Linked DNA regions of Homo sapiens: region 1 is linked to region 2. The links come from fine-mapping of genetic effects on gene expression. A gene starts in region 2. The other region holds a variant in brackets. All regions are shown on one strand. Distances are from middle to middle.

What was found.
Region 1: its variant is fine-mapped to the expression of APBB3 in whole blood (TOPMed, PIP above 0.99).

Annotation. Positions count from the first base shown.
Region 1 is chr5:140,637,085-140,639,991 of GRCh38, reverse strand. TMCO6 (transmembrane and coiled-coil domains 6) reads right to left here and starts at 541. Exons shown (of 12, transcript NM_018502.5): 1 at 380-541; 2 at 141-253. The coding sequence starts at 464. RefSeq lists a silencer at 480-729. The variant C/T (reference allele first, on the strand shown) is at 1,342.
Region 2 is chr5:140,563,566-140,566,472 of GRCh38, reverse strand. APBB3 (amyloid beta precursor protein binding family B member 3) reads left to right here and starts at 1,875. Exons shown (of 13, transcript NM_133173.3): 1 at 1,875-2,276; 2 at 2,558-2,721; 3 at 2,803-2,879. The coding sequence starts at 2,228. It overlaps SLC35A4 (solute carrier family 35 member A4), which reads right to left and starts at 1,645. Exons shown (of 3, transcript NM_080670.4): 1 at 1,615-1,645; 2 at 502-600. It overlaps LOC131768270 (SLC35A4 upstream open reading frame protein), which reads right to left and starts at 1,645. Exons shown (of 3, transcript NM_001394034.2): 1 at 1,615-1,645; 2 at 502-600. The coding sequence starts at 1,629. It overlaps MIR6831 (microRNA 6831), which reads left to right and starts at 2,722; the gene lies at 2,722-2,802. RefSeq lists enhancers at 1,568-1,687, 1,443-2,049, 2,658-2,717 and a silencer at 2,008-2,187.

The DNA of each region.
Region 1 (2,907 bases), 74 kb before region 2:
TCCCCTGTTTCTGGCTTGACCCACTGGATGCGTGGAAGTGTAGAGTGGATTGCGTTCAGGTTTGGGGCAGACCTCGAGTACTCCCGGGAGTCTGGCGCCAGCGGGCGTGGACTCCAGCGCACCCTACCTTGCCCCCTCACCTCGGTTTCCCCGAGGATCGCAGCCACACATCCCTCTCCAGCTTCCTCTGGGGCGTCGTTTCTCAGCAGCCTCTTGCTGACCAGCTGCTGCTCCCTCCGCGCCTTCCGCAGTGCTGGGGGCAGAGGAGCCGGCTGAGCGTGGGAAGGACGACCACAACCCAGAACCCGCGGCTCCGAGCCTGGGGTCTCAACTTATCCCCGACCGCCATATACCCCCGCGCTCCCTCGGCCGCCCACACCTGCCTCCCGCTCCCGCCGGCGGCGCCGTAGCTCCTCCACCCCGCAGACCGTGGGCCTGAGGCGGCCCTGCCGTCGGCTCCACATGGTGGAGCAGGAGGAGGAAAGCCGAAGGAAACAGCAGCCACAACGCTCCCAGGGGCGTAGAAGATGGCACCGACTGCGCAGCCTCAGCACAGGGCGGGAACAGGCGGGGAGGGCGCGAGGAGCGGGGTGGGTGCTGGGTGAGGGCGGGGCTCGGCGAGTGGACGCCTCGCGGGGACGGTGGGCGGGGCGAGGGCTAGAGACGCTGCACCACTAGACCAGAGCCAGAGGCGTCGCTCTGCCTCTGATTGATTTCCTGTCTTACCAATTCTAGGAAAAAAAGTCTCTCATCCCTGACCTCGAGTGACCCAAGCCAGCAGTGTCACAATCTACTCAGCAAACACAACTTCCCCACCCACAATACGCTCTAGATGAAAGTTCAAAACAATCCCGAACTGCGGGAAGCGCCATGATGCCGTTTCACTATTAATGCGGATCCCACTGATGAGAGCTGCCAAAAACGCTTGAAGCGTCATTGAATTGTCAACGAAAAGAGTCCAACTCTGTAAAATATTTGAAGAGACTTATTCTGAGCCAAATATGAGTGACCATGGCCCTTGACACAGCCCTCAGGAGGTCCTGAGAACATGTGCCCAAGGTGGTCCGGTACAGCTTGGTTTTACATATTTTAGGGAGATATGAGACTTCAGTTCATTCAAGAAATACACTGGTTGGGCCGGGCCTGGTGGCTCATGCCTGTAATCCCAGCACTTTGGGAGGCCTGGGCGGGTGGATCAGCTGAGGTCAGGAATTTGAGACCAGCCTGGCCAACATGGTGAAACCCCATCTTTACTAAAAATACAAAAATTAGCCGGGAGTAGTGGTGGGTGCCTGTAATCCCAGCTACTCGGGAGCCTGAGGCAGGAGAATCGTTTGAACC[C/T]GGGAGGCGGAGATTGCAGTGGGCCGAGATCGCGCCCCATTGCCTGGGGTACAAGAGCGAAACTCCGTCTCAAAAAAAAAAAAAAGAAAGAAAGAAAGAAAGAAATCTGGGATATGATGAGGTTTCTCTTCAAATAATTAGATCAATCTTTTATTCTTTAATTCATAGTACTCCCCCCCACACACACTTTTGTTTTCCTTTTTCTCCTTTTTGCCTTCGTTAGATGCCGAGGCACGCCACAGTACAAGACGTTATCAGTACCAGACGTTATCAGTACCAGCTCACATTCCTTTCATTATTTGGAAAGAGGACTAACTTTCTAGTTCATTACAGGCACCCCTTCCCCTTTCCTCTCCACTTTCTTTTACGTGCCCACATTACCTAAAAAAATCAAATGTTTAGCCAACCGGGATTAGTTCAGATTGTATGACCCGACCCCGGCCAATGGGGAAAGGGTACAGGGGCAGGACTTGCGTCAGGAATAAAGGCTCTCGTGCCCCTTTGTTCAGGTGTGCTCTCATGGCGACTGGCCAAGCAGACACCCCTCTGAGCAGAAGTAAAATTGCTTTGCTAATAATCCTTTGTTCGAGTGTTCAATTTCCCTTAGGATTTTGAGCGTTATTCCTAAGAGAAAGAAAAGAAAGAAAGGAAGGAAGAAAGAAAGAAAGAAAGAAAGGGAGAAAAGAAAGAAAGAAAAGAAAAGAGGAAAGGAGGAAGGGAAGAGAGGGGAGGGGGAAAGAGAGAAAGACATTGGTTTGTGGGACAACAGAAAGGCGGGACAACTCGAAGTGGGGCGGTGGGGGGCTTCCAGCTTATAGGTAGATTTTAAATTTTTCTGGTTGACAATTGGTTGAGTTTCTCTAAAGACCTGAAATCAATAGAAAGGAATGTCTGGGTTAAGATAAAGGATTGTGGAGACCCAAGTTCTTATTTGCAGAGGAAACCTTCAAATCCTAGGCTTCAGAGAGAATGGGTTGTAAAATGTTTCTTATCAAACTTAAAGTCTGTGTTGATGTTAACGGTAGAGAGGTATAATGAGGCACGTTCAACCCCTACTTCCCATCATGGCCTGAAACGGTCACTCGGGTTTAATTTTGAAAGAGCCCTGGCTGAGGAGGAAGTCCATTCAGATGGTTGTGGGGGGCGGCCTTAGAATTTTATTTTTGCTTTACAGAATGTTCACCACAATGACCATTATTCTCATTTTATATGTGATGAAAATGAGAAAGATATCATTATTTCACTTCTCTGCATAAAACTGAATTCCCATAATTTTTAGGATAAAATCTTTCACCAAATGTGGAGTGCCACTAGTCTACTAGGCACTGAGGAAACACTAGTGAATAAAAAACCGTGTTCCTCACATTCAAAATTGGAATTGTGGCCGACTTAGCCCTACATGGTCTAACCCCTGCATACCTCTCCAATCTGGACTCACCTCTTCTGGGACCTTCTCTTTGTCAACAAGCCCTGTTCTTTTTCTCCTCCACCCTACTCCCACTCTTGGGGGAGGCTCTCGCACAAGCTGTTTTCTCTGCCTGCATCCTTCCCTTTTCTTTCTACCAG
Region 2 (2,907 bases):
CTCCTCCTCACCCTGGACAACCGTGGTATTTTCTCCAGATTTTTCCCAAGGTTCTGGGGCCAGAAAAAGAACCAAGCAGTTCTGATCACACAATCTCAGAACCCTGGGGTCAGAAAGCTCCAACCATAGAACTCCACCGCCACACAAGGTCAGAGATGCCCCTAGCCCTGCCGGTTTCTCCAGCCTCATTTCCTAGCATGCTCCCCAACTACTGTAGCCAAATGGACCTCCTTTCACCCCTCATGTTTATAATGCTACTTCCTACCACAAGGCCTTTACATATGCTGTTCTGCCTGGAATGTTCTTTCCTCCCCTCTTCACCTACTTAACCACTACTTAAGATATTAGTTCATGTGCCATTCAGAAAAATTGTCCTTAGGGTGACTGAGAATAGGCCCTCAATAATCACTTGCTGAAGAAATCTCTACCATCCATTTAACACTCTCAAGAGCATGTTGGGCAATAAAGCCTAAGGCAGGGGTGGGGTGGGACAGTCCTTACCTGGCCCACTCCACTGTTGACTTCGTCTTCTACACGCCGCTGCAGGCTTTCCAGCTGGTTCTTGAGAAATGCCAGGTCCTTAAGCTTAGGCAGAGAATCCTAGGACAAGCGAGAGGCTGGCTCCAGCAGTCTGACTAAGCCCCACCCCTTGCTCAATTCCATCAGAAGCTGGGAATTGGGAGGGGATGGGGTGAGCCAGAAAGACCTTTTCCTATAAAAGCTTCCTGAGATGGCAGTGGCAAAGAAAGACAAGCATTGAAAAGCACAGAATTCAAATGAGGGCCAGGAAGGGACTGACAGATGGGATCTGAACCAGTAACTTACATCAACCTTGACAAGAATTTTATATAGCAAGCAGTATGTAGGAAAGGCAGGAGGGACAGCTAGGGACCTTTAATTAGGTCCATCAGGAAACCACTACTGACTCCATTATGAGCTCCTTGAAAGTCGTGACCAGTCTGTCTTGGCTACTATGTTCTAGTGCCTGACATTTAGTAAATGTGTGGGTAATGCTGAGCTTCTAGACCAATGGTGAGTAATGGACCGAGGCAGTTTCCTGGACAATTTTATTGTCTTGGTTCCTGGATGGGCTTTACCTCTTTCTTCCCAAGGACATCCCAAACTGAATGTGAGTGACTGGATGTGACTGAGAATGACAAAAAAGACTGTCGGCAAGTGTGTAAGTAAATGGACTGAGTGATTTTGATCGCATATAAGTATGAAATTCAGAATGTATGCAAAGGAGTGTTTGAATGAGGGTGGTGTGAGTGTCCGTGTGATTGGAAACATCGTGTCACTGGGAAGAAAATTTCGGGAGCTAGGGAATGGGGTAAAGTGAGGAGTGTTTAAGGGTGAATGTTTTTGAGTCTGTGCTAGTAACGGGTTCGTGATGGTTCCCAGGAGGGGACATCTGGGGGATCCACGGCTCCTCCCGCCTCGCCGAATGCTCTCCCCACACCACTCCACACTGTTGAGGCAGTTGACAGGAGCCGCAGAAGAAACAAGGGACATCCTCACTCCTGAGCCGCTCCAGAGTCGCTTCTCCCCGGAACTAAAAAGGTCAAGGAGAGTGAAGACCACGCCCGGCTGCAGATCACCCCCACGGCCACTCACCTTGTCATCCGCCATCTTCCCCGCCGAACTTGTTGCGCAGGCGCATCCCCGCCTCCCTCGTGCCGACTGCCCCGGCCATCTTTACGGAGGGCGAAGGCACTTCCGGAGCATTTTTGGAAAGGGGGAGGTGCTTTCCTAGTGGCCAAGTACGCCTCTCTCAGATACTTCCACGTGACCCCCTCCCGTCGAGTCTCAGGCTGCGTGTGAGCGCACTCACGACCGGGGCGCGATGATCTCACTCGTGCGCGAGTGCGCGCGGCGCATGTTCGGCGTGTCGGTCTTCAGGCGCCTGATGAGTTCATAGTTGGGCGGTGGTGTCAGCGGTTTCGCTGGCGTTCGTGGGCCTCCCCCGGACCCACACACGGAAACACGCAACCATTCGGGGATCCAGACGCCCGTTTACACGCACCACCCCTGGGCGGGCTGTGCGGCTCAGGCCCTCCCCCGGGACCGGCCCGTGTCCCGCCCCGTGTCCCGCCCCGTATTTGTGCGGCGCCAGCTGGCCCCGCAGCCTGCGGCGCAGAGAGGCTGGGCTTGCAGGCGCAGTAGCTCCAGAGGTCGCGCTGGGCTGAGAGTGCGGGCCGGCAGAGGCTGGCGGGGAGCAGCCGGGGTTATGCTGGGCAAGGATTACATGCTGGCCATCATTCTGGTCAACTGCGATGGTGTGCACGGAGGGGCCCGGTGGGAAGACCAGGAGCTGAGGGAGGACGAGGGAATCCGAAAGGCTACTCTGGGGCTCAAAGACGGTGGGGGATACCTCTCTGTGTAGGGACCAGGGGGCGAATGAACCCGGTCTTTACATGTGATGTCTTCAAGATTGAGGAGCCTGGATCTTCAGCCTAAGAACTGACCCATTTTGGGGATGGAGAGGGGATTATGACAGCATGTTATTCTGAACTCACAAATCATATGCTCCCTCCTCTCTAATCCGGTGTTCCTGTAGATGACTTGTGGGGGGACCACAGTCTGGAGGTGGAGGCTGGCCTGCCTCCTGGCTGGAGGAAGATCCACGATGCTGCAGGTACTTACTACTGGCATGTACCCAGCGGTAGCACCCAGTGGCAGCGCCCAACCTGGGAACTAGGAGATGCAGAGGACCCAGGCACGGTAGGTAGAGTGTGAGGAGGAGGTCTGAGCCCATGTGTGGACCTAGGTCTGCTGTTAAACTGACTAACTCCCACTCTACAGGGAACGGAGGGGATCTGGGGACTGCGGCCCCCCAAAGGGAGATCCTTCTCCAGCCTGGAGAGTTCACTGGACCGGAGGTAACGGGTGGCCCAGGCAAAATGAAAG